Linked DNA regions of Homo sapiens: all the other regions are linked to region 3. Evidence: fine-mapped expression QTL. A gene starts in region 3. Each other region holds a variant in brackets. All regions are shown on one strand. Distances are between the middles of the regions.

Region 1 (10,817 bases), 45 kb before region 3:
AATATTTTTCAAGACATACATATGGTCAAGAGACACATAAAAATGCTCAATATCAGTTATTATCAGGGAAAGGAAAGCAAAAAAAACTATATCAACTTATTTCTGTTAGAATTACTCCTATTTTAAAAATGTGTTAGTCAAGGTGTGAAAAAATGGCAATGCTTGCACACTGATGGTTTGAATGTGAATGAGGACAGTCATTACAAAAAACAAAATAAGGATTTCTCAAAAAAATTTAAAATTAAACCACCAAATACAGCAATTTTATTATTGGTTATACATCCAAAACAAACGAAATCAGAATGAAGAAACATGTGCCTGTTTTTTACAACACTCTTCACAATTACCAAAATATAAAATCAGTGGTTTCAACATTTAATGAGTAAATAAAGACAATGTGGTATATACACACAATGGAATACTATTCATCTTTAAAGAAGGAAATTTTATTATTTTCAATCACACGAATTAACCTGGAGGAAAACATTATATTTGTCGAAATGAGCCAGGCACAAAGATTATTATTTCATGATTTCACTTACAAAGGGATTCTAAAAAACTTAATCTTATTGAAGTAAAGTGGTGGCCACCAGACACAAGTTATTTAGGAGAAAGGAGGGTTTGAAAAGATGTTGATCAAAAAATACATAATTATAGTTAATAGAATAAGTTCAAGAGATTGTTTTGTACAGCATAGTGACTATAGATCAAAATAATGTATTTGTAGTTTTGAAAAATGCTGACAATGTCACATGCTCTTGCCACAAAAATGTTAACTATGTGAGGTAACTACCTAGAATTAAGCATTTGACAATGTATATATACTTCCAAGTATTATGTTTTACAAAATAAATACACATTTACTTATTTATTACAGATGGTGATGACATGGAAGACACTAAAAGGGAAGGTGTTGCTTACAGACTTATGACTGGCCACTCTGGGAACACAATGAACAAGTTTGCATAAAAAGTAACACAAAATAATCTAAAAGTTGCCATCATCTCCAGAATTTTTCCAGAGAAAATGACCAAGAAGTTGACGACAGGTGACTAAGAATATAAACTGTACACTGACCTTCACTCACTAAAAAGACACATAAAATAACAGGGTGAAATTCCTCTGAGTTGTAATATCAATATGGACAAGAAATATTATTCCAAATTTCAAATCCACAGAGGTCATTTTATTATTTTGCAACCTTTAACATTCACACTTAAAAATAAAAGATTCAGCAGGGCACAGTGGCTCACGCCTATAATCCCAGCACTTTGGGAGGCAGAGGAGGGCAGATCACGAGGTCAGGAGTTCGAGACCAGCCTGGCCAACATGGTGAAACCACGTCTGTACTAAAAATACAAAAATTAGCTGGGTGTAGTGGCAGGCACCTGCAATCCCAGCTACTAGGGAGGCTGAGGCAGGAGCATTGCTTGCACCCAAGAGGCGGAGGTTGCAGTGAGCCAAGATCACGCCACTGCACTCCAGCCTGGGTGACAGAGCAAGATTCCATTTCATAAATAAATAAATAAATCTGTGTTGTGCTATATCATAGAACATTAAATTTAAAATTCCTCACCACTAACTCTTAATAATTTAATTTCTAAGATGCATTTTCTAGCAAATATTAAATGTGTCACACTCTGTGTAAGAATTTAATAAGATTTTCCGTTTACAAACAGAAAAACAATGCTAAGTTATTTAATCCTCTGATCTATGGACAGTGTATGCGTTTTATCTTAATTAACTGATCTGAAAGTTATATTGATAAGCAAACTCTCTAACTAAAACCAATTTTTGAGTGCATTAAAAATACCAACTTTCTCATCAAAACCTACAAAGTACCATGTAAAATGACATGGCATGAAGACAATGAGAAAACTGTAGCAATCACGTAGAAAAAAGGGAGAGGGGCTGTGATGAATACACAGAAGACACATAATAAGACAAACAAAACTAAAGATAATTAGGAAATAAAAGAAACAGAGTTTCTCTTTAGGTTCAGCAATATTTAGCTTCGCAGCATGAAAACAATTGTTATCTCCACGGGAAGAATCAATCTTATTTCTTCACTATTGATATTTTCCCTCTCCGACTTGAACTTACAAACTAACTCTAGCAGGAATATTTATGGCTTATCATGGAGCATCTGCTACACAGCAAGCACTGTCATGTTTGTTCGCCACATTTATATATTAAAAAACATCATGACTTATGAAGCATCCCGAGTTCTTATCTGAACAAATTGCCTCAATAAATATATTTATGTCAATTATAATGAGAACAAAAAAAGTTAAAAAATACAGGCTTATGTAGAATTCTCCAATTAAAAGAAAAAATCAAATGTCCTAATAAAATACACAATTTTGGAAATACATCTAAAAATTGTTCAGTGTGCATTAAATTTTATAAAAATCGTTATTAGTCATGACCAGCTCACGTAATGAATACCTCATAAACTATAAAAGAAAAAATCGTAAGAGACAAGAAAATTATAGGTCTAGCATGAGTACTAGGCAAGGAAAAACAGAAATTTTTCATGGGGAGATTCTGAACCCTAAGTCAGAAGATTTTACAGTAATAAATTTAAAAAAAAAGCAGAGTATAGATTTGCTTTCAGCATTTTTGAGGTTTTCAGTTTCAGTTAATAAGTCACCTTATTAAAATATTTGTTTTGTTACAATATTGCTCTATTCTTCTGAAAATAGGTACAGACTCATCCTCATATATACTCTATAATTTTCTTGCACCTAAGGTTTATTTAGAGTAACATACGTGCATAGCTAATTTTATGTAAATTAAAACTAAAATTCTGTATGTTTGCAGGCAGAGAGAGACCAAATGTTCAAAGAAAAATACATAACAAATTTTTTTAAATGTTTAAGCAGAACTCAGAATTTTAAGACTCAGGGTTTTATTTATACTTGTAAATAATTTTTATTTCACTCATAAAAATGACCCTGTAGTCAGTAGCATTTAATTGTACATTTTAAAGTAAGTAAAAGTGTAGAATGGGTTAGTAATCCAAAAGATAAATGCTAGAGTTGATGGAAACTTCATTTGCCCTTATCTGATTAATACATAAATTATATGACTGTATCAAAAAATGCCATATAATGACATAAATATAAACAGATACTATGTACACACAAAAATTGAGAAAAATAAGTTTAAATTATAAATAAAAAATTTAACCAACGGGAACGATATTCATTAATTTATTTGCAGTTTGAAGCCACTGGCAAAATAAATTATTGGAGATGTTAGTCCATTATGTTATCAAATAGTCTATTGTTACCATCTTTGACCTACACCCTTGAGTAAGGTAGGATAGGTAAAAGTTAGTGGCATAATAATACTTCATTGAATGCACAGTGGTCTTATGTTAAAATTTTTAATTAAAAAATTAAGTTTATAATAATCTAAATCTTTAAAACTGTGATTGGACTCTGGTGAAGACTCCAAGATGGCGATCGCCACCTCAGATACCCCGACTCAGCATTTCCAGGTTCACCTTTCCTGTTCCCACCACCCCGACTAACGCGCATGCCCACTAGGACGTGTCACACTCAGAAGCGCGAAACTCAACCGACCCCGCCCCTACCCCGCCCACTCCTCACCCAGCATCCATAAAAGTGCGCTGCACCTTTGGCACAGTGCGACTTCCCTGGCCCTCCCGCTGCGGACCAGTGAACCTCACCTGAGAGCTCAATAAAGAAGATTTTTGCCCTCTTTGTCTCGCCTCTCCGCCTTATTGATCCATGGTGCCCTTCCATTGCCTTTCATTGGTGCCGAAACACGGGAGGGGACACCTCCTAAGCCCCCCAGAGGCTCGGGAAGACTCCCCTCCTGGTCGGATCAGGCCTCTCCCTCAGTCAGGTCAGGCTTCTCCTCCACGGCCATCGGTCCATTTCGTCCGGTTACTTGCCGCCAGGTCACAGCTGCTGCAGCTACTCCAGTCCAATTCGGCAGACGCTGGGTGAGTACCCCTCCTTTTTCCTTTTGTCCATTCCTCCCTGGCCGAGAGTCATGCGCACACCCAGGGAGAGTTTCCTTCCTCAAGGGAAGGCCAGTCCGGGTCACCAGGAGACCCAAGTTTACTTCCCCAGGGGAAGTCCAAATCGGCATTGACGACTCAGAGACGTCTGTGTCTGAAGTAGCCGATCCGAGGCTCCAGGAGCTGCGTGGTCTGAGTGACCCCAGAAGGACGCTTCTGCTGTCCCTCAGACGGCTGCCATAAAGGGAAGAGGATGGGGTCCACCCAGTCCAAAATCACGCAAAACACCCCCTTAGGGTGCCTCCTGCGCAACCTCCCAACTTTACAACTCGACCAAGATTTAAAACGAAAGCAACTAATTTTCTTCTGCACAGTTGCCTGGCCGCAATATACCTTAGACAACCAATCTCGCTGGCCCCCCGAAGGCACACTCAACTTCAATATCCTAAACGACCTTACCAATTTTTGTCAGAGGCGAGGCAAATAGTCAAAAATCAAATTTGTTCAAAGGTTCTGGGACCTCCGCTCTCGTCAGACCGCTGCCGCCAAGTGTTTTCGCTGGCACAAGTCCCTCTGGCTAGCCTTCCCCTTGAAGTCTGACCAGCCTCTCTTGCCATTAATCTTGTCCACGGCCCCCATCTTAGTCTCTCCGCCGCCATCTCCTTCTGCACCACTGCCATCTTACTACCTGCTTCCTCACCGCCGCCATCTTACTTCCTTTTTTCTCTGCCACCATTTTAGTTCTTCTGCCGCCATTTGGCCGCCATTTTAATTCCTGTTAGTTCCCATTTGTTCTTTTAACCCTGCCCACCTAACTCCTTGGCTTCCATCTTACCCCCATTCTTATTTCCACCTCCCTGTAGTGCCATACCAGTCCACTACATCTACAACTCCTAACACATTCGCTGCGGGCAGTGATATCCGCTAATCCTGGATGAGGCAGCGGAGGGCCCCCAAACCCCTATCCAGGACTTAGTAAAGCTGGCGTTCAAAGTTTTTAATTCCCGAGAGGAGGCGGCTGAGGTACAACGACAGGCAAGACTGAAACAAAAAGTTCAGCTCCAAACCCAAGCCCTGGCAGCTGCCCTGCAACCGGCATTCCCTAAGAGCCCCAGCAGGAGAGGTAGAGGTACGATCTCCCAGGCCCCGTCTGGCACCTGCTTCAAGTGCGGCAACTCAGGACACGGCCAGCCGGTGCCCTAGCCAACAGCAACCGTCCTGCCTGCCTTGCAACTGTTTCAAGTGTGGCAATCCAGGTCATTGGGCAAAACAGTGCCCAAACCCCAAGCCGCCAACACGCCCGTGCCCTAACTGCCAACAAATGGGGCACTGGAAGTCAGACTGCCCCGGCCTCGGAGCGGCCGCTGTGTCTCCACATGGCGACCCCTCCTCGGATGGCGAAGGTGCCCTCCAGCTCCTCCAACTGGATGACGACTGAAGAGGCCCAGACTTGGGAACCCCTCTCACCCTTGCCGAGCCCAGGGTAATGCTTCAGGTAGCGGGTAAGTCCATTTCCTTTTTACTAGACACAAGGGCTACCTACTCTGTTTTGCCATCTTTTAGCAGACCCAGCCGCCCCTCCTCAATCTCTGTTATAAGGATTGATGGCATTCCCTCCACCTACCGCCAGACGCCTTCACTGCCCTTCCGCCTAGACCACTATATAACTTTCTTGAACCCATAATCTACCATCCTTCCCTTTATTCCTTACTAAAGCAAATACATCAACTTATCTTCTTACTTTAGTAAACACTTTCTCAGGTTAGGTTAAAGCCTGCCCTACCACTCATAAAACAGCAGAGGTAGTAGCTTCAACCCTCATCGAACAGATAACCCCAAGATTTGGCCTGCTTTTATCTCCAAAATAGTCAAACAGGTGACAACCACACTTGACGTTAACTGGAAGTTACACACTCCATACCATCCGCAGTCTTCTGGAAAAGTGGAACGCGCCAACAGCCTTGTCAAACAACACCTAATCAAATTGGCTCTCGAGACGCGCCAATCTTGGGTAACCTTACTTCCCTTTGCCCTCGCGTGGCTCTGGGCAGCACCCCAAAGCCCCACAGGCCTTAGCCCCTTTGAACTCCTATACAGGCGCCCCTTCCTCTTTCAAGAGCTCCCTGTGAATACCCCACCTCTTGGCACGTACCTGCCCTACCTCACCCTGTTAAGGGAGCTGCTAAGAGAACATGCCAACTGCAGCCTTCCAAAGCCCGGACCGCTCAGCCCAGACAGTCCAGCCATAATAACCCCAGAAGATCAGGTACTAGTAAAAGACCTCCAGGCAAGAGGTCTCTCCCCCCGTGGAAAGGCCCCTACATGGTAATTCTTACAACACCGACGGCAGCTAAACTTACAGGCCTTCCCTCCTGGTACCATATTTCCCATCTTAAGAGGGCACCTACACAACATCAGGCCACTTGGACTGTCACTTCCCTCCCCCCAACCAAACTGAAACTCTTTAAATCAAATACCGCATGAATTCTCCATGTGACAGGCTCCAACAATTTATTCAGGTTCTTCTCGAGGAAAGCTGGTCATTCCCTACTTTTGCTAACACCTTTCGCTGGCCTGAAAATCTGTTGTCCTATATAGACGAACTGGTGTGGCAAGGCTCCCTCCAGAACT[T/C]TCACCAACATGAAGTTCGCTTTGACAAGCCCCCTCTCAGACTCCCTCTCACTGGGTTTTTTCCCCTCACTGAGAATTGGAGTTCCACACAGGCAGTCTCCTAGACTACTAGCCATGGCAGCATGCCCGCCAGCAGGGTGCCAGGCACCCATAGCTTTCCTAGGTCTAAAATTCTCTTCCCTAGGCCAGGCTAGAAAAAACCCTGCACTTTGCTTCCTGTATGATCAAAGTAACTCCAAATGCAATACCAGCTGGGTCAAAGAAAATGTAGGCTGTCCGTGGCACTGGTGCAATATCCATGAGGCATTAATTCGTACTGAAAAAGGATCTGACCCAATGTTCTATGTCAGTACCTCCACTGGAGGATGGGACGGCTTTAACGGATTTAACCTCCAAATCTCTGACCCTTAGGACCCCCGCTGGGCCTCTGGTGTAGATGGAGGACTATATGAGCACAGAACTTTTATGTATCCAGTAGCTAAGATCCGCATTGCCAGGACCCTTAAAACCACTGTCACAGGGTTATCCGACTTAGCCTCCTCAATCCAGTCAGCCGAGAAAGAGCTTGCCAGCCAGCTTCAACCGGCAGCTGACCAGGCCAAGTCCTCCCCCTTCTCGTGGTTTTTAATTTCAGAAGGTGCACAATTGCTCCAATCCACAGGGGTACAAAACCTCTCCCACTGCTTCCTCTGTGCAGCCCTCGGAAGACCTCCCTTAGTAGCAGTTCCTCTCCCTACCCCCTTTAATTATACAAGAAATTCATCCACCCCTATACCACCGGTCCCAAAAGGACAGGTCCCACTATTCTCAGACCCTACAAGACACAAGTTCCCGTTCTGTTACTCTACCCCAAATGCCTCTTGGTGTAACCAGACCAGGATGCTTACCAGCGCCCTGGCACCACCCGGAGGCTACTTCTGGTGTAACTCCACACTAACTAAAGTTCTTAACTCAACTGGTAATCACACCTTGTGCTTACTCGTCTCTCTCATCCCTAGCCTGACCCTATATAGTCAGGACGAACTTAGCCATCTGCTAGCCTGGACCGAGCCAAGGCTGCAAAATAAAAGCAAACGGGCTATTTTCCTACCCTTAGTACTAGGCATCTCCTTAGCCTCCTCCTTAGTGGCATCAGGGCTAGGAAAAGGAGCCCTCACCCACTCAATCCAAACATCTCAAGATCTGTCTACTCGCCTGCAGTTGGCCATTGAGGCATCGGCCGAGTCCCTGGCCTCCCTACAGCGACAGATCACTTCGGTAGCACAGGTCGCAGCACAGAACAGGCGGGCCTTAGACTTGCTTACAGCAGAAAAAGGAGGGACATGTTTATTCTTACAGGAAGAATGCTGCTATTATCTCAACGTGTCAGGGGTAGTTGAGACCAATTTACAAACTTTAAAAAAAAAAGATCCAAGAGGAGTTAAAACATTCCTAGGACCCTCTCCACCCTGGTCCTTCTTGGTGGTTTTCACCTGTGGTTCAACAGATGCTCCCTTTCCTTATCCCAATTATAATTCTCTGTATAATAATGTGTTTTGCCCCAATCCTAGTACAGTTTCTCCGCCAGCGGATACAAGAAATCACCAGGGTCACTTTCAACCAGATGTTACTTCACCCCTACGTCCAACTGCCAACCTCTGATTTAGGCCCTCTCCCCAGTGACACCCCTTAACAGCAGGAAGTAGCCAGATGATTTCGTCGCCCCTTTTCTATAACCAAAAATAGGCTGGACTGATTGGACTCCAGTGAAGACTCCAAGATGGCGATCACCACCTCAGATACCCCGACTCAGCATTTCCGGGTTCACCTTTCCTGTTCCCGTCACCCCGACTAACGCGCATGCCCACTAGGGCGTGTCACACTCAGAAGTGTGAAACTCAACCGACCCCGCCCCTACCCTGCCCACTCCTCACCCAGCATCCATAAAAGCGCGCTGCACCTTTGGCACAGTGCGACTTCCCTGGCCCTCCCCCTGTGGACCAGTGAACCTCGCCCGAGAGCTCAATAAAGATTTTTGCCCTCTTTGTCTCGCCTCTTGGCCTTATTGATCCACGGTGCCCTTCCATTGCCTTTCAAACTGTACTGCATTTTATTACATAAAAGTACAATTAGTAAAATTATATACTAATTAATTTTAACTAAAATTATTTTGTTTGGAGTATAACGCAGAATACTACTCTGAACACTTACCTCATACATCACTCAATATTATAAATTAAACACAAAGAGCCTCTCCACTTAGACTTTTGTCATGCATCCTACATTGTAATGTCTTTACTCTTCCATAGAAAAATTCAAAAACAATATTGACATAACAAAAAAGAATCTCTCATACCTTTGATGCAGCAACAATTGATCACATGCTTTCACTAGTGAATGCAATAGGAATGAAGAGCATGAAGTAATTTGAGTTGAATTACATTATTCACTTTTCATAAATTCTGCAATTTTTTTCAAGGAAAAAAGTATACTTTGAATGTAATTGTAACTCTGCAAAAATATTTCTACTTCTTTTAAAGTTATGTACAAATAATTTATCTACCCACTTTAGTTTTGGGTTATTTTATATACTCAGCACATTTACTTAGTGCAATGTTTGAAGTGTCAGTGCCTTAGATATTTTTACTGTGAATTCTCTGATACTTACGTAGCCTTATTTTTGATTTTTTTTATATTTACTGCATGTGGAAAAATATAGTTTAGTATGCATCCCCTGGTGTTTTCTAAGATGTAGTTTTTGAAAAATTTTTGAAATGTATTACATTTGTAGTTTTTCTCCGATATAAATTCCCTGATGTTGAACGAAGTTTGAGCAACTGCTTCGGATACAAAATGTGTACAATAAGATCTGTGATACAAGTAAGGCAGGCACTACAACCCTCTTTATGTTTCTAATGTTTGTCTTCAAAATAAAAACTCTTTTTTTACTTTAAAGGCTTATATTGGCTGGGAACAGTGGCTCACACCTGTTATTCCAGCACTTTGGGAGGCAGAGGTGTATGGATCATTTCAAGTCAGGAGTTCGAGATGAGCCTGGCCAACACAGTAAAATCCTGTCTCTACTAAAAAATACAAAACTTAGCCGGGCGTGATGGTACATGCCTGTAGTCCCAGCTATTCTGGAGGCCCAGGCAGGAGAATTGCTTGAACCTGGAAGGCAGAGGTTACGGTAAACCAAGATTGCACCAGTGCACTCCAGCCTGGGAGAGAGTATTACGTAGTCTCATTTAAAAAAAACAAAACAAAACAAACAAACAAACAAACCACACACTAAAACAAAACCTTATGCTGAGTTTTGACAGTAATTGCATTTATAATGCTTTTATTAAGTACTAACTCTCTAATGTTGAATAAGATGTAAGCACATATTAATGGCTTTTCTACATTCTTTATATCAGTACAACATTTTCTGAAGTATAAATGCTTTCCTGTGCAATAAGGTATAGGAATTAAAGTTTTGCCATATTCTTCACACTTCTGGGAGTTTCTGCCAGTATGAATTATCTTACCTACAATCAAGTGTGACAACCATTTAAAGGCTTTGTCACATTCTTCACATTTTTATAATTTCTTACCAGTATGATTTCCTTTATGTTTAGAAAAATTTGAAGGTTTTGTTAAAATCATTTTCACATTTTTCTGGTTTGTAACATTTTCAGTATTAATTTTGTTTAGTAAGATTTGAGAATTGGTTAAAAGCATTACCACATTCTTCATATTTGTGGGGTTTCTCTCCAGTATGAATTATATTATGTGCAGAAAGGGTTGAAGACTTGTTAAAGAATTTACCAAATTTTTCACATTTGTGGTGTTTCTCTCCTGCATGAATTTTAGGTGTAAGAAGTTTTGAGGATTGTAAGTTTTACCACATTCTTTGAATTTCCAAGGTTTTGCTCCAGTATAAATTATCTTATGTATAGTAAGTGTTGAGACTTGGTTAAAAGCTTTGCCACATTCTTCACATTTGTAGAGTTTCTCTCCAGTTTGAATTTTCTTATGCATAGTAAAGTTCGAGAACTAGTTAAAACAACTGCCACATCGTTCACATTTGTAGGGTTTCATTCAAGTGTGAATCATCTTATGTATAGCAAGTTGTGAGAACTGGTTAAAAGATATGCCACATTCTTCACATTTGTAGGGTTTCTCTCTAGTATGAATCTTCTTGTGTTTAGTAAGGTTTGAGAGTTGGCTA
Region 2 (10,817 bases), 150 kb after region 3:
TACAGTAACCAAAACAGCATGGTACTGGTACCAAAACAGAGATACAGATCAATGGAACAGAACAGAGCCCTCAGAAAGAACGCCACATATCTACAACTATCTAATCTTTGACAAACCTGACAAAAACAAGCAATGGGGAAAGGATTCCCTATTTCATAAATGGTGCTGGGAAAATTGGCTAGCCATATGTAGAAAGCTGAAACTAGATCCCTTCCTTACACCTTATACAAAAATTAATTCAAGATGGATTAAAGACTTAAATGTTAGACCTAAAACCATAAAAACCCTAGAAGAAAACCTAGGCAATACCATTCAGGACATAGGCGTGGGCAAGGACTTCATGTCTAAAACACCAAAAGCAATGGCAACAAAAGACAAAATTGACAAATGGGATCTAATTAAAGAGCTTCTGCACAGCAAAAGAAACTACCATCAGAGTGAACAGGCAACCTACAAAATGGGAGAAAATTTTTGCAACCTACTCAGCTGACAAAGGGCTAATATCCAGAATCTACAATGAACTCAAACAAATTTACAAGAAAAAAACAAACAACCCCATCAAAAAGTGGGTGAGGGACATGAACAGACACTTCTCAAAAGAAGACATTTATGCAGCCAAAAAACACATGAAAAAGTGCTCACCATCACTGGCCATCAGAGAAATGCAAATCAAAACCACAATGAGATACCATCTCACACCAGTTAGAATGGCAATCATTAAAAAGTCAGGAAACAACAGGTGCTGGAGAGGATGTGGAGAAATAGGAACACTTTTACACTGTTGGTGGGACTGTAAACTAGTTCAACCATTGTGGAAGTCAGTGTGGCAATTCCTCAGGGATCTAGAACTAGAAATACCATTTGACCCAGCCATCCCATTACTGGGTATATACCCAAAGGACTATAAATCATGCTGCTATAAAGACACATGCACATGTATGTTTATTGCGGCACTATTCACAATAGCAAAGACTTGGAACCAACCCAAATGTCCAACAACGATAGAATGGATTAACAAAATGTGGCACATATACACCATGGAATACTATGCAGCCATAAAAAAAGATGAGTTCATGTCCTTTGTAGGGACATGGATGAAATTGGAAATCATCATTCTCAGTAAACTATCGCAAGGACAAAAAACCAAACACCGCATGTTCTCACTCATAGGTGGGAATTGAACAATGAGAACACGTGGACACAGGAAGGGGAACATCACACTCTGGGGACTGTTGGGGGGTGGGGGGAGGGGGGAGGGATAGCATTAGGAGATATACCTAATGCTAAATGACGAGTTAATGGGTGCAGCACACCAGCATGGCACATGTATACATATGTAACTAACCTGCACGTTGTGCACATGTACCCTAAAACTTAAAGTATAATAATAATAAAATTAAAAAAAAAAAAATAAAGAAAGCAACGCAGAAGAAGCAGAATCATTTCATCTGGGTGCTGGGACCAGCAATATGTCACAGTGCTCCCTGTAGGAAAGGCCCAGGCAGGAGAGATACGTCTATTGGTTGCTGCATGCAGAAATGTGTCAGAATTTTTCTTGTTGGCAAAATGCAGGCAGAAATGAAGAGTCACAAGTTTTAGGTGACAGATGCAATTTTTAGGGGATGGATGGATTTCACAAGGCTCCCTGCAGGCAGGGCTCAAGCAGGAGACTCACATTCCCTAGGTTCTGGGTCTAGCAATATGTCATAGTACCAAAAATATGTCGGGCAAAGCAAAAAGAGGGGAGTTACATCATCTAGGATTTTGGTCCACCAATATGTCAAAGATATTGTTTGGCTCTGTGTCTCCATCCAAGTCTCATCTTGAAGTGTAATCTTTATAATTCCCACACGTCAAGGGAGGGACCAGGTGGAGGTAATTAAATGAGGGGGTGGTTTTTTTCCATGCTGTTCTCATGATAGTGAGTTCTCACAAGATCTGATGGTTTTATAAGGGGCTCTTCCTTCTTTGCTCAGAATTTCTCCTTCCTGCCAACTTGTAAAGAAGGTGCCTTGCTTTTCCTTTGCCTTCCACCATAATTGTAAATTTCCTGAGGCCTCTCCAGTCATGCTGAAATGTGAGTCAATTCAACCTCTTTCCTTTATAAATTACCTAGTTTTGGGCAGTTCTTTATAGCAGTATGAGAATGGACTAATAAAGTCACAATCCCCTTTTGGCCATGCCCAGGTAAAAGAGAAGAGTCACATCTTCTAGGTGATGAACAAAAATATATGACAGAATGCCCCTGTGTGTAGGCCCCATGCAGAAAAGTCACAAAACCTAGGTGTTGGCCTCAGTCCTATATCACAATATGCAATGTATGCAAGGTTCAGGCAGTAAAAGAGAGTCACATCACCTGGATCTGAGCCCAGTAATATGTCAAAATCCCTCATTGGACAAAGCCCAAACAATAGAAGAGTCATATTACCTTGGTGGTGTGCCTAATGATACGTCACAATTCTTTCTTGGTCAGAGCCCAATCAGTAGAAGAGAGTCAATTCACACAGGTTCTGGGTTCAGCAACATGTCACAATACCCTTTGAGGAGAGGGCTCATGCAGGAGAGTCACATTACCTGAGTGACAGGCCCAGATATATGTCACAATTTCCCCTTTGGGGAGGGCTCAGAAACAAAGGGAGAGTCACATAACCTAGGGGCTGGGCCCAGCTATATGTCACAATCACCCCAGTTGGCAGAGCCCAGGCATAACAGAAATGTCATATCATGTAGTTGCTTACCCAAGAGATGTGTCACAATTTTCACTGTGAATAGGTCCCAAGAAGAGTCACATTATCCAGGTGATGGACCCAGAGATATGTTACAATGTTCCCTGTTGGTAGAACTCAGAAAAAGAGGAAAATTACATAACATAAAGGCTGAGTTTAGCTATGTCAGTTATCTCAGTGGGCAGGCCCAAGGCATGAGAGAAAAATCACATCATTAGTAAGTGCAAGGCCTGGTGAAATGTCACAATACTTACCATGTACAGGACACAGGAAGAAGAGGAGAGTCACGTCATTTAGGTGATGGGCCCAGAGTTAAGTCACAATGAGTTTTGTGGGCAGGGACCAGGCAGAAGAATCACATCACCTCTCTGCTGGGCCCAGAAATAAGTCACTTTCTCTTCTGTGAGCACCATCCAGGCAGAAAAGGGAGTCACATCACCTAGGTGCTGGGCCCAGAGTTATGTCCCGCCTTGGTCTCCCAAAGTGCTGGGATTTGCCTCTCCTACAGGCAAAGCCAAGGTAAGAGAAGAGAGTAACAACAAATAGTAAATGGGCCCAGAGATATGTCACAATAGCCCCTGTGTGCAGGCTCCAGGCAGGAGACTCACATCACCTTGGTGCTGGGCCCAGCAGTACGTCACAGTGAACTTCAGAGTTCTGGGCCAAGGCAAAAGTGTAACTACACCTTGGTGTTAGGCCCAGTGATATGTCACAATCTTCCCTGTTGGTAGAACCTAGGAAAAAGAGAAGAGTCACATCAGCTAGGTGCTGGGCCCAGCAGTAGGTCACAATCTCCTCTGTAAGGACCAGGCAGGGGAAGAGAGTCATGTTGCCTGAGTGACAGGTGCAGAGGTATATAACATGATGCCCCCATTAAGCAGGACTGAGGCAGGAAAGTTACATCATTTGGGTGTTGAACGTAGCAATATGTCACGATTTTTTTTTTTTGAGACAGAGCCTTGCTCTGTTGCCCAGGCTGGAGTGAGGTGGCATGATCTCAACTCACTGCAACCTCCGCCTCCTGGGTTCAAGCAATTCTCCTTCCTCAGCCTCTTGAGTAGCTGGGATTACAGGTGCGTGCCACCATGCCCAGTTAATTTTTGTATTTTTAGTAGAGACGGAGTTTCACCATGTTGGCAAGGCTGGTCTCAAACTCCTGACCTTTTGATCCACCCACCTTGGCCTCCCAAAGTGCTGGGATTACAGGCATGAGCCACTGCACCCAGCCAATATTTTACAATTATTCCTGGGGACAGGGCACAGGCAGAAGCCATCTAGTACCAAGATGCAGAACCCAGCAACATGTCACAATACCCCTGTGAGCAGTGCCAAAGCAGGAGGGGAGGCCCACATAACCTTGGTGCAAAGCCCAGAGATATAGCAAAATGCCCCTGTGGGCAATACCAAGGCAGGAGAATAATGACACATCACGTAGGTTCTGAGTTAAGCAATATGTCGCAATTCCACCTGTTGTGCCCAGCTAGGAAAGTCAAATCACTCAGGTATTGGGCAAAGAAATATTTTACAATCACACCTGCATAAAGGTCCAGGGATAAAATGAACAATTATGTACATGTCCCGGTCCTAGGTATTAGAGTCGATACCTCCTGTATGTAAGGTCCAAGTACATGAGTCACAATTTCAACAGGTGACTGGATCCATGCTTGGGAGCCACAGTCCCTCAAGTCCACTGTATATTCTTCATAGAGTCACAGCCTCACAGGTTTGCTGAATCTTGGCCTGAGAGTCACAAACCCACCTGTGGACCAGATCCATGTATGGGAGTCAATTTTCCAACTTTTGACTGCCTCTGGTTGTGAGATTCAGGACCCCAACATTGGCTGTGTTTATGTGGTTGAATGACAGTCTTTATTGTTGGCCATGTGTGCATACAAGTGTCACAATTTTACTTGTGTGCTGGATACTGTAGGGACCCTCTCTGTTTTACTAAGGACATCACACAGTATGCATGAGAGTTGCAATCTGCTCTGAAACCTTTGTACTTGGATCCAGAGATATGTCACAATGCTCTAGGTTTATAACTGTATTTGGGCTTATAACCACTATCTTACCTGTGGTTGTAGGCACAGATATGAGACTGAATATCTCTTAAAATGACTGGTTTTAGATAGGAGGGTCTTCACCTGCCTATAAGCTCGGTTTAGAAATGAGTAACCATGGGCTGGGTGTGGTGGCTCACACCTGTAATGCCAGCACTTTGGGAGGCTGAGGCAAGTGGATTGCCTGAGGTCAGGAGTTCGAGACCAGCCTGGCTAACATGGTGAAACACCATTTCTACTAAAAATACAAAAATTAGCCAGATGTGGGGGCAGGTGGCTGTAATCCCAGCTACTGGGGAGACTGAGGCAGGAAAATTGCTTGAACCCAGGAGGTGAAGGGTGCAGTGAGCCAAGATTGCGCCATTGCACTCCAGCCGGGGTGACAAGAGCGAGACTTCGTCTCAAAAAAAAAAAAAAGAGAAAAAGAAATGAGTAAACATTCCAACTGTGGCCAGATGTTCAGATGTTCACATATGCAATCACAAATCTAACCGTGGACTGCATCCATAAGTTGGATTGAGGATGTCACCATTGGGCTCTCTTCATGTGTCAAGGTGACAGTGCTAATAGTTGGCTGGGTGTGTCTATGAAAAGAAAAATCTCCCCTGAATTTACGCTCTCTGCATCACCCAAGGGCTTTATACAATGTGGGAGAAAGTGGTAATTCTTTATGATCTTTGTACAAAGAGGAGACCCAGCATCTTACCTGTTTCCCTCAGCCTAGCTATAAGAGAGAGTATTTATTTTTACTAGCTAATTTGAGGAATGAGAGTCATCATCACACATAGAAGTTAGGCCAAGATATATGTCACAATCTCATTTGTTGGTAAGGATTGAGCAGGAGAGTCACATCAACCGGGGGCTGGGAGAGGAATATGTCACAATCTTCCATGTGGACAGAATGCAGGCTGAAGAGGGGAGTTACATCT[C/T]CTTGGTGACAGACGCAGATATATATCACAAGGCCCTATGCGTGACAATGCAGATATTTATCACAAGGCAGTGCCCAGGCAGGAACTTCCCTTTCTGAAAGTTTTGGACCCAGCAATATGTCACAATATCCAAAGTATGTGGATTTTGAGAAAAAAAGAGAGTCAAATCACAGAGGTGCTTGGTCCACTGATATGTGAGGCCCAGGAAGAAGAGGAGAGTCACATCACCTAGGTGATGAATAAAAAAATGTTTCATAATACCCCTGTGGCCAGAGCCCATGCAGAAGAGTCTCAATGGACCAAGCCATATGTCACAATACACAATATATAGAGTACCCAGGCAGAAGATGCAAGTCATGTCACCTAGGTGCTAGGCCCAGTGGTACATCACAGTCCCTTTCAGGGCATAGCTCAAGCAATAGAAAAGAGTCACATAAACTAGGTGCTGAGTTTGGCAATTTGTCACAATACCCTTTGAGGGTAGGCCCCAAGAAAAAAATTCACATCGCCTAAATAAGGGGGGCAAAGAAACCCCATCCATACTAAAAATACAAAATTAGCTGGGTGTGGTGGTGGGTGCCTGTAATCCCAGCTACTTGGGAGGCTGAGGCAGGAGAATCGCTTGAACCCTGGAGGCGGAGGTTGCGGTGAGCCAAGATGACACCATTGCACTACGTGCTGGAAAACAAGAACAAAATTCCATCTCAAAAAAAAGGAGAAAAAAAAAAGGTAGGTGTTGGGCCAAGCCATATGTCACAATCCCTGCCATGGACAGGTCCCAGAAAGAAGAGAAGAGTCTCATTATCTAGGTAATTGGCCCAGAGACATGTCACAATAACTCCTGTGGGCAGTGATCAGGCAGAAGAATCACATCACCTGTATGCTGAGCCCAGGAATAAGTCATTCTCTCTTCTGTGGAAATTGCCCAGACAAGCACAGCAAGTCATATCACCTAGGTCCTATGCCCAGAGATATGTCACAATCTTTCCTATGGGCAAGTCCCAGGCAAGAGAGGAGAGACACATTAAATAGTTGGTTGGCCCAGAGATAGGTCACAATGACCCTGTGGGGAGGTTTCAGGCAGGTTCACCTTGGTTCTGGGCTCAGCTATTTGTCACAATGTCTTCTGAGGGCAGGGCCAAGGCAAAAGAGTAACGTCACCTTGGTGCTGGGCACAGTGATATGTCACCATTTCCCTTGTGGGCAGAACCTAGAAAAAAGAGGAGAGTCACATCAGCTGGATTCTGGGCATAGCAATATGTCACAATACCCGCTGTGAGCAAAGACCAGGTAGAAGAAGACAGTGACATCATGGAGCCTCCTGCAGGCAGGGCCATGACAAGACAGTTACATTACCTGAGTGCAAGGCCTGGTGATATGTAACAATGTCTACTTTGGGCAGTGCCAAAGCAGAAGAGAAGACTCACATCACCTGGGTGCAAGGCCCGGTGATATGTCACAATGCCCACTGTGGGCAGTGCTGAGACAGGAGACTAGATCACATTACCTAGGGGCCAGGTCCAGCAACATGGCACATTTTGAACTGTGGGCCGGGCCCAGGCAAGAGAGTCAAATCACTTAAGAGCTGGGCAGAGACTTATTTAACTATCACACCTGTAGGAAGGTGCAGGGATGGTATTAACAAGCCCACACATGTCCGGGTTCTAGGTATGAAAGTCAGCACCTCTTGTATGTTGGGTTTAAGTACATGAGTCACCATCTCAGCAGTGGACTGGATCAGTGCATGGGAGCCTCAATCTTTCCTGCAGACTATCTCACCTTAGTAGAGTCCCAGCCTCACAGGTTTGCTGAATCTTAGCCTGAGAGTCACCAGAACACTTGTGGACCTGATCCACATATGAGAGTCAATTTTCCAACTTTTGACTGCCTCCAGGTGTGAGTTTCAGAATCTCAACAGTGGGCTGTGTTCACGGGAAATGATAACAATCTTTACTGTCAGCAGGGTGTGATATGGGTGTACGGTCAATCCTCTTGGGAGAGATTGACCCAACATACAAGATATGTTGACACTCCCACCTAGAACTAGAACATGTGTGGGATTGTGATCTTATTCCTGGACCTTCCTGCAAGTGTGATTGTGACATACACCTTTACCCAGCACCTAAGTGGTTCGACTTTGCTGCCTGGAGTGAACTCACAGATAAAATTGTGACATATTGCTCGACCCTGCACCTTGGTGGTGTGACTCTACTCTCAAGCCTTGTCATTGCCCACATGAAGAATTATGACATACTGCTGGGTCTTGCACCCAAGTTATGTGAGTCTTTTCTTCTGCCTTGGTGTTGTATACAGGGAGCATTATGATATATTGCTGCATCCTGTGTCAAGGATTTGTGGCTCTTCTGCCTGTGCCTTGCCCACATGGGCCAATGGGACATACTGCTGAGTCTAACACTTAGGTAATGTAACTCTCCTGCCTGGGCACTGCTTACGGGAAACATTGTGACATATTTGTGTACCTATCAACCAGGTTACATAAATCTCTTCTCCTTCCTGATTCCTGACACTTAGGTAATGAAACTTCCCTGCCTGGGAACTTCTTACAGAGGACATTGTGATATATGTGTGTACCCATCAACCAGGTTACATAAATCTCTTCCCCTTCCTGATTCATGCTAACAGAGGGGATTGTGGCTCTTCTATTGTTTTTAGGTTCTGTCTTCAGGGAAAATTGTGACATACCACTGGACCCAACACTAACAGGATGTTACCGTTTCGCTTTGGCCCTGACCTGGAAAGGCATTCAGCCCTATTGCTGGGCCTAGCACAAAAATCATGTGGCTCTTTTGCCTGGAGACACATTGTGACATATCTCAAACTTATCAACTATTTGATGTGACTCTCTATTCTTACTTGCACTTTGCTTTTGAAAGATTCTGACATATCTCTGTCTCTGGGTCCTCTCCTTCTGGACAAACCCCCTCAGAAAAAAAAAAAAGTGACTTATTGCTGACCTCAGCACACAAGTGATGTAATTCTTCTGCCTGGTCCCTGCCCACAGAGAGCACTGCAACGTATTTTTTAGTCTATAAACTTTTGATGTAACTTTCCTCTTTTACCTTAATCCTCCACATGGTCCCTGCCCACCCAGGGCATTTTGACATATCTCTAGGCCCCTCAACTATTGGATATGATGCTCTTTTCACATCTGAGCTTTGCCAAAAAGTGAGATTCTGATATATACCTGTGGGCTCAGCACCTAAATAATATGACTCCTCCTTTGCCTGGGTCCTGTATTCATTGTGTGTTATGACATATGGCTGAGTCCAATACCTACATGATGTGACTCTCCTGCCTGGGTTTTGCCCACAGGGTACTTTAAAATATCTTTTTCTTTATTACCTATGTGATGTGACTCTCTTATTCCACCAGAGCCCTGCCAAATAGAAGGATTGTGACATATCACTGAACACAGCACCTAGGTGATGTGACTCTCTCCTTTTGCCTGGGCCTCACATATTTTGGGTATCGTAACAAATTGCTGGGCCCCACCACTGGGAGATGGGAGGCTTGTGCATGGATCCTGCCTATGTGGGGACCTTTTGATACTTATCTGCATCTATCACTTAGAAGATATGACTTTCCTACCTGCACCCTGCCCACAAGGAAGATTGGGAACTATCACTAGGCCATGCGTCCAGGTTATGTAACTCGGCTGCCCGTGTTCTGCTTTCAGGAGGGAATTGTCACAATCTCTTCTACAGGCAATGCCCAGGTAAGAGTAGAGAGTTACATCAAGTAGTTGACAGGCCCAGAGATATGTCACAATGTCCCCTGTGGACAGAGTTCAGGAAAGAGACTCACATCACGTTGGTGCTGGGTCCAGCAATATGTCACAATGCCTTCTGAGGGCAAGGCCAAGCCAAAGAGAAAAGAGCAATGTCACTTTGGTGCTTGGCCCAGTGGTATTTTACAATCCCCCACATGAGCAGTGATCAGGCAAAACGAGAGTGTCATATCACCTGCGAGATGTGCATAGAGATATGTCACAGTGCCCCCTGTAGTCAGGGTCTAAGCAGGAGAGTTACATTACCTGGGTTTTGGACTAAATAACATGTTATAATGCCTTATGTGGGCAGGGAACAGGCAGAAGAATCACATACCTTGGGTGTGGAGCCCAGTGATATGTCACAGTGCCCCCTATGGGCAGTGCCTAGGTAGGAGAGGAAATTCACATCACCTGGTTACTGGCCTAAAAAATCTGTCACGATTTTTTTTTCGTGGCCAGGGTTCAGGCAGAATGAAGAGTTACATCTCCTAGGTGATAAATGCAGAAATATGTCAAAAGGCCCCCTGTGGACAGGGCCCAAGCAGAAGCCTCCCAGCCCCTGGGTGTTGGGCTAAGAGATATATCACAGTACCCAAAATATGCTCAGGCCAGTAAAACAAGAACAGTCATATTACCGAGGTGCTGGGTCCAGTTATATGTCACAATCCCCACTTCTGGCAAAGCTCTGGCAGAAAAGGAGAGTCACATAACTTAGGCAATGAATAAAAAGATACCCCTAAGGGCAGAGCCCATCAAGGAGAGTTGCATAACCTAGGTGTTGGACCTGACCCTATGTCTCAATACACAATGTATGAAGAACTCAGGTGGGAGGGGAGGGTCACACTGCCTAGGTGTTAAGCCCAGCAATACAACTAAATCCTTTTTTTAGGCAGATCCCTAGCAACAGAAAAGAGTCAGATCACCTAGATGCTAGGTCCAGCAATATGTCACGATATTCCTTGAGGAAAGAGCCGAGGTAAGACAGTAACATCATCTAGGTGAAAGGCCTAGCAATATTTCACAATCTTCTCTGGAGACAGAACCCAGAAATAAAAGGAGTCACATCAGCTAGGTGCTCGGCACAGTGAAATGTCATGTTGGGTATAACTACATGAGTCACAGTCTCAATGGTGGACTGGACCAAAGAATGAGAGCCTCAATCCATCCTGTGGACTGTGTCTTCTTAGTAGAGTGATGGCCTCACAGGTTTGCTAAATGTTGATTTAAGAGTCACAAACGCAAATGTGAACCAAATCTACATATGAGAGTCGATTTCCCCACTTCCCTGCCTTTGGGTGTGAGATTCAGAACC
Region 3 (10,817 bases):
AAAGCTGACAAGATCAATGTAGGAAGAATTTCCTTTTTTTTTTTTTTTTGAGTCGGAGTTTCACTCTTGTTGCCCAGGCTGGAGTGCAATGGCTCAATCTCGGCTCACCACAACCTCCGCCTCCAGGTTCAAGCGTTTCTCCTGTCTCAGCCTCCTGAGTAGCTGGGATTACAGGCATGGGCCACCATGTCCGACTATTTTTTTTGTAGGGTTTCTCCATGTTGGTCAGGCTGGTCTCAAACTCCCGACCTCAGGTGATCCACCCGCCTTGGCCTCCCAAAGAGCTGGGATTACAGGCGTAAGCCACCATGCCCGGCCAGAATTCCCTATTTAATAAAATGGTACTGGAATAACTAGCTAGCACTATGTATAAGATTTTCTTTTTTGTATTTAAAAAAATAGCCGAATTTTTCTTCAGCGGTCAAATAAAATACTTCTTAATCAAAATATAGTTAAGTTTATCTCCTTCCCACAGCTCCTGAACTTTGAGCTACTCAGTCTGAGCCAACATACAACCCCATTTTATGTTTCTCCTAAAAACTTGCTGACTTCAGGGTAAAACATTTTCTAATCTAAAATCTGATTTGGGCTGAGCGTGGTGGCTCACGCCTGTAATCCCAGCACTTTGAGAGGCTGAGAAGAGCAGATCACCTGAGGTCAGGAGTTTGAGACCACCCTGGCCAATATGGCAAAACCCCATTTCTAGTAAAAATACAAAAATTAGCCCGGCATGGTGGTGGGCGGCTGTAATCCCAGCTTCTCAGGAGGCTGTGGCATGACAGTCACTTGAACCCAGGAGGCAGAGGTTGCAGTGAGGTGATATCCAGCCACTGCACTCCAGCCTGGGCAACAAAGTAAGACTCTGTCTCAAAAAAATAATTTAATTAAAAAATAAAAAATAAAATCTGATTTATACACCCTCCATTTGCCATTCCCCTCTCACCTTCTAATCTTTTTTGCTCCTCCCTAAGAAAGCCTTTATCTGCCTAAACTTTGCAATCCTTAAAGATTATATAGTTGGTACTTCCTTCTGTTGCAGTATTTTAGAATTTTTTAAAAAATAAACCTAATTTTGTTTTATTTTACAAAGTCTAGAAACTGCCTCAAAACAATAACAACTTCATCCTGAGTATGACCCTCCCAATCCCCTTCCATCTTAATGTTTACTGCATCTGCCTGTGGGTCTCCAGTTTTCCAGGGCTCTGTAGCTTCTCTCAGTATAAAGGTTCTTCCATGGCTGGGGTGAGCAGGCTCCGACATCCGCAGGGGAGGCTTCCTAGAAAGAACTAACTGGGCCTTTAATAACCTCCCTTCCCTTTGTAGGCTCAATATTAGCCTTAGCTTGCAGTCACTGGCGCAAGCTTTAATTTCCATGTCGGAGTTGTTCAAATGGTTTTTTAAACTGAAAAATTCAGCAAAATTACTCAAACACAGTGTTTATATAAGGGAAGGAAATTTTAAAGCACTTACGTCACATATCTCAAATGCAAAAGTATGTAATCTTTTAAAACGATAAATAATTATTTTATTATATCCATTAAAAATGATGTAGTAAACAATTAGTCATATGGGAACACTTCTAGGATAGACCAAGTTTCATCTTAAAAAATTTAGCATTAACCTCAGAAATCAAGATGACTGGATACAGAAGAGAGGTATTCACTGAAATGTACCCTGAAAAAGGAGGAACTGATATTTTCATGAATCTGTATAACTCACCAATTATCTACCACATCTTCTTGTGGAAATGTATTCATTTTCTTTCTTTCTTTTTTCTTGAGATGGAGTCTCGCTCTGTCGCCCAAGGTGGAGTGCAGCCGCACGATCTCAGCTCACTGCAACCTCTGCCTATGGGGTTCAAATGATTCTCCCACCTCAGCCTCCCGAATAGCTGGGATTACAGGTGCCTATCACCATTCATGGCTAATTTCTAATTTTTGTATTTTTAGTAGAGATGGGGTTTCACCATGTTGGCCAGGCTGGTCTAGAACTCCTGACCTCAGGTGATCTCCCTGCCTTGGCCTCCCACAGTGCTGGGATTTCAGGCATGAGCCACCGCACCCCGCCGGAAATGTATTCGTTTTCCACAGCCAAAATGGAAGAAGTATTTTCCCTATTCTTTTCCTTGGTAGCATTCTAAAAGCTAAGCCTTGGAATACTCTTGGACATCACCCAGCCATAAAAAAACAGACCTGAGAAAATTCCTAAACTCAGTCTGGGAAAGAAAAAGGTAAATGAGAATACTTAACAAATAGAATATATGATTAGATATTTTTTTCCAAAACCCATCTCTTTCATGCCCATTCTAATTATCCTCTTACCTTTTAGTCCTACTAATAAACTGCAAGTTACAATTAAAACACTGAAGTAAGTGAACAAATCTTTTCAGGGTGACAATCCCAGGGAGTGGCAGTGCTGATTAAAAAACAGATGTATCTCACTCACATGTCAAGTCAAGCCACCCAATCACTTGAGAGATTCTCCCACCCCATCCTGCTCACTTAAGTGCTAAACGACCACCCTCTCTGAAGACCACCCTCTCTGAAGACGCTGCACTATGCCTCAGTGACTGCCCCAAGTACATTTCACTTTGCAAGTTCTTGAACCATCTCACTGGGGTAAGGTTTGATTTGTCTTTTTGGATACTATCATTTCTTTCACAAATCTTAGAGAATCCAGTGGGCCGAAATTATTTCTGTGTTCTCCCCTCAATACCAGCATATGATTGATTGACCAGCAATATGTCTCCGGAAATGGACACTGGGTTGGTTTGAAGACAATCTTAACTTCTCAAAGGGTTTGCTTTTCAAAGGAAGAGTACACCAGGAGATTCCTCTCAGCCCCAGGGCATTCACCTGCTCCCTTGAGAGGCTACACTCCAACCTCAGGTTGTCCTCTGTCTCCCATTCCCAGATAACCAGAGTTCATTCCAGGCCAGGAGCTGAAATTTACCAGAGATTCTAGCATACACAGCCACAGTGGATATTTTGATTTATCCTCAGAAAGTACTGAAACCCAGGACCAAGGAAAAAACTGAAGAGTGACTAAGGACACATTACCTTATAAAGTTTCCAAAGGGAAACCTTGACCCAAAAATATTCTGATAAGATCTCTGTACCTAGGGAAGATTTAAAAAAAAAAAAAAAGGCACAGAGATTTTTTACAATACAGCATCAGGGGATGAGTCTTTGGTTTCTTCTCATGGGAAATATTTACAAACAGATAACAAATCTTTTTTAAAATGCCATCCATGCTTTGTCAAAAAATGATTAATTAAAATACAGTATTTCAAATGTACACTAAAGGACAAATAGTTGATAATGTGAATTAGGAAGGGGAAGTTGGCATTTGGGAATGTCAGAAGGAACTGGAAATTTAGTATTTTACTGCAAGCCAGAGTTAGGCTGAAGGAATGGGAAATGGGGAGGGGGAGGAGTCTTGAGACCCTGCTTGGGACACATGTGAAAAATGAAGGGGAAGATCTGTCCCCTGTGGAGTGTGAAAATAATTAAGTGGCAGGCAATTAGACTGAGGTCGCTCCAGTCCCAGGGTTTCTGGTTTTAAAAAAATCTAACTCAAATGCATTTTTTTGTAAATTACTACCTTGTGAAAAATAAAATTCATGTTTAACCAACTGTAAACTGCCAATTAACCTCTGATTACATGACCAGGAAATTTCCTCCTTCATTGTACAAATTAAGAAACTACATAACTCTACTAACCAATTACTGAATTTGGTTTTATCATACACCTTATACAAGTGTTTCCTTCAAACCCCTCCCACGGACCACTACTGCAAACCACAGCTGGGTGCTCCACAATTCTTGAATCACTGTTTGATTAAATTAATTTTTTTGCGGTGACTTTCATAAATTTTAATAGGGGAAAAGAGGGACAGGGAAGCCCGCGGAGGAAACCTCTTCCCATTCATGAACCCAGCACCCCGAGTCAGGATTCTCCCCTGACGACCCTCCCGTCGTCTCTGCACAATCGCTGCGGGTGCAGAGCTGCTCAGAGAGGGCTCCAGGCCAGGGCACAGTCACTGCGCAGGGAGGAGACAGGACGCCTGGTTCCGGCTGTCAGCCCAGCTGCCATGCTATGGCTTAAGGGGACTGAGGGCCGAGCTGTGCCAAGAACTCGGGGCCGCGGATTTTGCAGCCGACTGCGGGAAGACCCGAGTACTGCCACAGCCACTTCCGACCGGTTCCAACCAGCTCCCTCCCCCTCTCTCGGGATGTCGGACCCAGCACTCTCACCATTTCTAGGCTTCCGGGGGATCCTGGCGTCTTAGCTGTGAATCTCCCAATAACCAGATCACAGCGCCACAGAGGCTGGGCCTCTAGGAGTAAGAGGACGCAGAAAAGTGAAGGCCAGACCTGCAGCACCCGCTGCAGCGAGACAAAGACCCCGCCGCCTCCCGGAAGACGTCATGTCCGCTCCAGCTGGGTGCCTGATTGGACCGTTCCCAGCCCGGCGTCCCTGATTGGATAACGTTTAACAACCCGCCCCCTCAGGCCCTGAGTGACAGATGTGCTCAGGTGCTGGGCTGAAGGAAGACAGAGTTAAACCTAAGCAGCAGCCTTTTCCAGAAGGGCTTCCTCCCTGAGCTGAGTCAGGCCCACCCCAGAGGGCATTTGCATTTAACCTTGTGTATAAGGTCGTATGCATTTATAAATAACATATAGCTATTCACATCTGAATATAACAATTATTTTTAAATTCCAGATTTTATAACCGTACTGGCTTCTGGTCCTTTGAGCAGGCAGCCTGAGATTTTTTTCTTTTTTTTTTTTGAGACAGAGTCTCACTCTCACCCAGGCTCAAGCACAGTGGCACGATTTCGGCTCACCCCAAACTCCGCATCTCGGGCTCAAGTGATTCTCCTGCCTTAGCCTCCTGAGTAATTGGGATTACAGGCACCCGCCTCCACGCCCGGCTACTTTTTGTATATTTAATAGAGACAGAATTTTGCCATGTTGGTCAGGCTGATCTCGAACTCCTGACCTCAGGTGATCCACCTGCCTCGGCCTCCCAAAGTGCTGGGATTACAGAGCACATGTGAATTCCAAATTTTCTAGTAGTCAAACTTTAAGAATAAACAGGTGGAATTCACTCTAATTGAGATGGTTAGTCATTTAGGCTGGGCTCAGTGAGACCATTCTTGTGACCTCAGCTGAGTTCCTTCAGACATGTATCATCAGCTGCTTGTTGACTAGGCAGCTGTGCTTCTGGGGGTGAGCTTCTGCTTCTGAGGCTGTCAACAGAGGCAACTTGCTTCTCCTCCCCATACTATTTTATCTTCCATCTGGCTAACATGGGCTTTTTTCGCGGAGATAGTAGCCTTCTGAAAGAAAAACAGAAGCATGCAAAACCATTTGAGCCTACGCCTCAAACTAGCACACTGCACTGTTCACAGGTTTTTACTGCCCTGAGCAAATAAGGCCAGCCAGATCTAGGGTTTGGAAAACAGAACTGGATCTCAATGGAAACAGCTGTAAATGCACCTGGCAATGGGCATGGATAGCGGAGGGATGAAAAATTGCTAACATTTTTGCAATCAGTATCATTCTGCCTTTTTTTGCATATGTGGTTTATATAACTCTTCCACATCAAAAAAAAAAAAATTTGTGCAAAGACCCACAGCTATTAAGTGGCTGGGCTGGGACTCAGAATTAACTCCATTTGACCCTTGAAATCCTGGAGAGTGACACTTCTAAAATAGAAGCCAGATTTCTTTTAGATTTGTGCCCATATAGCACTGTTTATTATTATTGCTAGAAATAATCTTAAGAAATTGAAGAAGCACACGGTAGCTCACATCTATAATCCTAGCACTTTGGCAAGCTGAGATGGGAGAATCACTTGCGCTCAGGAGTTCAAGTGCAGCCTGAATAACATAGTTAAGATCCTATGTGCATGAAAATTTTTTTTTTTTTAATTAGCCAGTCATGGCCGGGCGCGGTGGCTCATGCCTGTAATCCCAGCACTTTGGGAGGCCGAGGAGGGCAGATCACGAGGTCAGGAGATCGAGACCATCCTGGCTAACACGGTGAAACCCCGTCTCTACTAAAAATACAGTCCCAGCTGCTCGGGAGGCTGAGGCAGGAGAATGGCATGAACCCACGAGATGGGGCTTGCAGTGAGCCAAGATCCCACCACTGCACTCCAGCCTGGGTGACAGAGCGAGACTCCGTCTCAAAAAAAATAAAAAATAAAAATAAATAAAAATAAAAATTAGCCAGCATGAGGCAATCCTGTAGTCCCAGCTACTCAGGTGGCAGAGGCAAGAGGATTACTTGAGCCTGGAAGGTCGAGGCTGCAGTGAGCCATGATTGGTTACGACACTGCACTTCAGCCTGGGTGGTGAGAGTGTGATCCTTTCTCCAAAAAAAAAAAAAGAAAAGAAAAGAAACAGAAAAGAAAAAAGTTGCAGGAGCATTTCAAAAGGACATAGCATATGTGGAAAAAGATAGATGAGGGATGAGTTGAGAAAATCAAAGCCCAGCAACACATTACTTATTTTTTATCATAGATAAAATCTGTAAACATCTAAAAAAAAAAACAAAACCTTCAGAGAAATTGAATGTAACAGAGTCTAAATGAACAAAGAATGATTTGCAAATCAGGCAGCCTGTGGGCCCAGAATAGGCTCAGAGAGACTCCAGCACAGCAACATGGTAAAAAAATTGATCAACAGAAAAAGCAAAGTGGCATACAGAAAATGAAATTGAGGTACAGAAACAGCCAAATTGATTACAGCTTGGGATTTGCCTTATTTGAACATGGTTTGAAGAGTTGATGTCCTTTTATTGGCAAAATCACAGTGGCTGGTACAGGAATGGGTTATAATCTACTTACATATCCAGTTAGGTTTCAGTTTAGTATGTACCAAAAAAAAAAAAAAAAGAAAAACAAACAAACAAAAAACCTACTGACCAAAATTAAACATGAAAACAGAGAGCTTCAGGCTATAATTTAACAATTTCTCCTTTTTGGTTATCTTCTCAATTTTGAGAGATAGACCAAGTTATCAGCTAAATAAATGGTCTCCTCATTTCAACCAAGCAGCCTGTTTCTTAAACCCCCGTAACTGAATCTCTGTAATACGTGTAATATATTTCTGTATAATCTCTATAATATATTTCTCCATGTGCAACTATGCATATTAGCAACTACACAGATACTTTTCTGTTTATGCAATAAGTAATCTCAAGAAATTCCATTATTTAGCACAACTTTAGTAAAAAAAGTCTATTGTGTAACCATAGCCTTTGCAGTAGAATCTGCTATAGAGACTATTATGAAGGATAAATGTCTAACCAATGCCTGATTTTTTTACCCTGAACCATGAAAAAAAAAAAAAAAAAAAGACCTAACAAATGATGCTTATTTAGAAGAGTAATGGCCAGGCAATGCTCTGAAACTTATTGTGAATGAGTTCTTTTTAACTTCTGAAGTAGGTTAAGAGCAGTGGACCTATATTCTGTGTTTCTGATATTATGAGGCAACAAATGTCCCATTAGAATTTCTCACCCACATTGACCCTTCATCTTGTACCTATCAAGGCATAAGTTTGTTCATATATAAAGTTGGCTGCAAAATTCTCTAGAGAATTAGATAATTAGTAGAGACGGGGTTTCACCATGTTGGCCAGGCTGGTTTCAAATGCCTGACCTCAAGTGATCCAACCGTCTCATCCTCCCAAAATGCTGGGATTACAAGCACGAGCCACTGTGCCCAACCTAATCCCAGCACTTTAAAAAGCCAAGAAACAAAGACTGTTTAAGCCTAGGAATACAAGTCCAGCCTGGGCAACATGGCAAAACCCTATGTTTACAAATAATACAAACATTAGCTGGGTATGGTGGCCCGCACTTGTAGTACCAGCTATTTAGGAGGCTGAGGAAGGCGAATTGCCTGAGCCCAAAAGGTCGAGGCTGCAGTGAGCCGTGATCAAGCCACTGTACTTCATTCTGGGTGACAGAGGGAGACCCTTTCTAAAAAAAATAAAATGCCAAAGCATATAAACTTAAACTTATGGAGTTTTCTGTGTTTCTTGTTTTTATCATTACTATTTCAATAGTTTTGGGGGTACAGGTGGTGTTTGGTTACATGAATAAGTTCTTTAGCAGTGGTGTGTGAGATTTTGGTGCACCCATCTACAGAGCAGTATACGCTGTACCCAATGTGTAGTCTTTTATCCCTCAACCCCACACCGCCCTTTCCCCCAAGTTTCTAGAGTCCATTATGTGACATAATTCTTATGCCTTTATATCCTCATAGTTTAGCTCTCACTAAAAAGTGACAACATGCCATGCTTGGTTTTCCATTTCTGGGTTACTTTACTTAGAATAATGATCTCCAACTTTATCCAGGTTGCTCTGAGTGCCATTATTTTGTTTTTTTGTTTGTTTGTTTTGAGACAGAGTCTTGCTTCGTCGCCCAGGCTGGAGTGCAATGGCGCGATCTTGGGTCACTGCAACCTCCGCCTCCCGGGTTCAAGTGATTCTCCTGCTTCAGCCTACTGAGTAGCTGGGATTAGAGGCACCTGCCACTACACCCAGCTAACTTTTGTATTTTTAGTAGAGACAGGGTTTCACCATGTTGAACAGGCTGGTCTTGAACTCCTGACCTCAGGTGATCCGCCCGCCTTGGCCTCCCAAAGTGCTGGGATTACAGGCCTGAGCCACCACACCCGGCCTGAGTTTCTTGCAGATTCTGAATATAAGTCCTTTGTTGGAAGCATGGTTTGTGAACCTTTCTTCTCACTCTGTGGGTTATCTGTTTACTGCTTGAATTATCTCTTTTGCTGTGCAGAAACTTTTCCGTGTAATTAAGTCACATTTATTTATCTTTTTTTGTCGCATTTGGTTTTGGGTACTTGGTCACAAACTTTTTGACTAAGCCAATGTGTAGAGGAGTTTTTTCTATATTATCTGCTAAAATTTTTATAATTTCAGGACTTAGACTTAAGTCTTTGATCCATCTTGTGTTGATTTTTTAAATCTTTTTTTGTTTGTTTGTTTGTCTGAGGCAGAGTCTCGCTCTTTTGCCCAGGCTGGAGTGAAGTGGAACAATCTCAGCTCACTGCAATCTTTGCCCCCCTGGTTCAAGCGATTCCCCTGCCTCAACCTCCCGAGTAGCTATGTAGCAGGATGAGCCGCAGACAAAACTCCTCAGACACTGGATTAAAGACGGAAGAGTTTTTTATCTGGCCGGGAGCGTCGGCAGACTCACGTCTTAAAAGCCGAGCTCCCCGAAAGAGAAATTCTTGGCCTTTTTAAAGGCTTGCAACTTTAAGGGGTCCACGTGAAAGGGTCGTGATACATCAAGCAAGCATGGGAAACGTGACTGGGGGCTACATGCATCAGCTAACAGAACAAAAAGCTTTACAATGCTTTTTTCATATAGTGTCTGGAATTTACAGATAACACAAGTAGTTTAGGTCAGGGGTTGATGTCATTATTGTTACTTTTTTTAACTCCTAGGGCCGGGTGGTGGTGCCAAGGTTGTCTGGCTATTTATCTTACTTTTGTTTTTTTTCCAACTTTTTGCTTTTTCTCTCCTCCTGTCTTGTGAACTAGGCAAGGTGTGGGAGGAGGGCAGCAGGAGTAGTAGTGGTCTCCTTCCTTAGCTGGAATTACAGGCACTGGCCACCACACCCGGGCTAATTTTTGTATTTTTGTATTTTCTTATTTTTTTGAGATGCAGTCTCGCTCTGTTGCCCAGGCTGGAGTGTAGTGGTGTGATTTGGGCTCACAGCAATCTTCGCCCCTGGGGCTCAAGCGATTCTCCTGCCTCAGCCTCCCAAGTAGCTGGAATTATAGGTGCCGGCCACAACGCCCAGGCTAGTTTTTGTATTTTTGTATTTTTTTGAGACGAAGTCTCACTCTGTTGCCCAGGCTGGAGTGCAGTGGCACGATCTCGGCTCACTGCAACCTCCATCTCCTGGGTTCAAGCAATTCTCTTGCCTCAGCCTGCCGAGTAGCTGGGATTACAGGCACACACCACCACACCCAGCTAATTTTTGTATTTTTAGTCTCCATGTTGGTCAGGCTGATCTTGAACTCCACACCTCGTGATCTGCCCGCCTCAGCTTCCCAAAGTGCTGGGATTACAGGCGTGAGCCACCCCGGCCAATTTTTGCATTTTTAGTAGAGACAGTGTTTTGCCATGTTAGCCAGGCTGGTCTGGAACTGCTGGTCTCAGGTTATCTGCCTGCCTTGGCTTCCCAAAGTGCTGGGATTACAGGTGTGAGCCACTGCACTCCACCTTGAATCATTTTTTTTTAGACAGTCTTGCTCTGTCACCCAGGCTGAAGTGCAGTGGCAGGATCTCTGTTCACTGCAATCTCTGCCTCCAGGGTTCAAACAATTCTCATGCCTCAGCCTTCTGAATAGTTAAGATTACAGACATGTGGCACCATGCCCAACTAAATTTTGTGTTTTCTAGTAGAAAACGGGGTTTCACCATGTTGGCCAGGCTGGTCTCAAACTCCTGACCTCAATTGATCTGCCTGCCTCAGTCTCCCAAAGCGCTGGGATTACAAGCATGAACCATCGTGCCTGGCCTTGAGTTAATTTTTTTATAAAGTGAGAGAAAAAAATTCAGTTTTATTCTACTACATGTGGCTTTCCAATTATTTCCGCACCATTCATTTAATAGAGTGTTCTTTCCCCACTTTGTGTTTTTGTTTACTTTGTTGAAGATCAGTTAGCTGAAAGTATTTGGCTTTATATCTGGTTTTGCTATTCTGTTCCATTGGTCTACATGCCTATTTTTATACCAGTACCATGTTGCTTTGGTAACTATAGTCT

The links. PIP is the estimated chance that this variant, and not a neighbour inherited with it, causes the effect.
Region 1: its variant is the best candidate, but not a certain one, in a credible set for the expression of ZNF138 in whole blood (INTERVAL, PIP 0.70).
Region 2: its variant is the best candidate, but not a certain one, in a credible set for the expression of ZNF138 in whole blood (INTERVAL, PIP 0.74).

Annotation. Positions count from the first base shown.
Region 1 is chr7:64,832,778-64,843,594 of GRCh38, reverse strand. ZNF138 (zinc finger protein 138) reads right to left here. Exons shown (of 4, transcript NM_001271639.2): 4 at 9,915-10,817. Among named protein-coding and RNA genes, the nearest start is that of ZNF138, 44 kb to the right of the region's middle. The variant T/C (reference allele first, on the strand shown) is at 6,626.
Region 2 is chr7:64,635,595-64,646,411 of GRCh38, reverse strand. It overlaps LOC124901656 (a long non-coding RNA gene), which reads right to left. Exons shown (of 7, transcript XR_007060350.1): 4 at 6,806-6,925; 5 at 2,981-3,460; 6 at 2,739-2,842. It overlaps LOC105375326 (a long non-coding RNA gene), which reads left to right and starts at 10,334. Exons shown (of 3, transcript XR_927602.2): 1 at 10,334-10,481. The variant C/T (reference allele first, on the strand shown) is at 5,716.
Region 3 is chr7:64,788,011-64,798,827 of GRCh38, reverse strand. It overlaps ZNF138 (zinc finger protein 138), which reads right to left and starts at 4,400. Exons shown (of 4, transcript NM_001271639.2): 1 at 4,257-4,400. The coding sequence starts at 4,259. RefSeq lists enhancers at 3,800-4,360, 4,145-4,384, 4,625-4,674.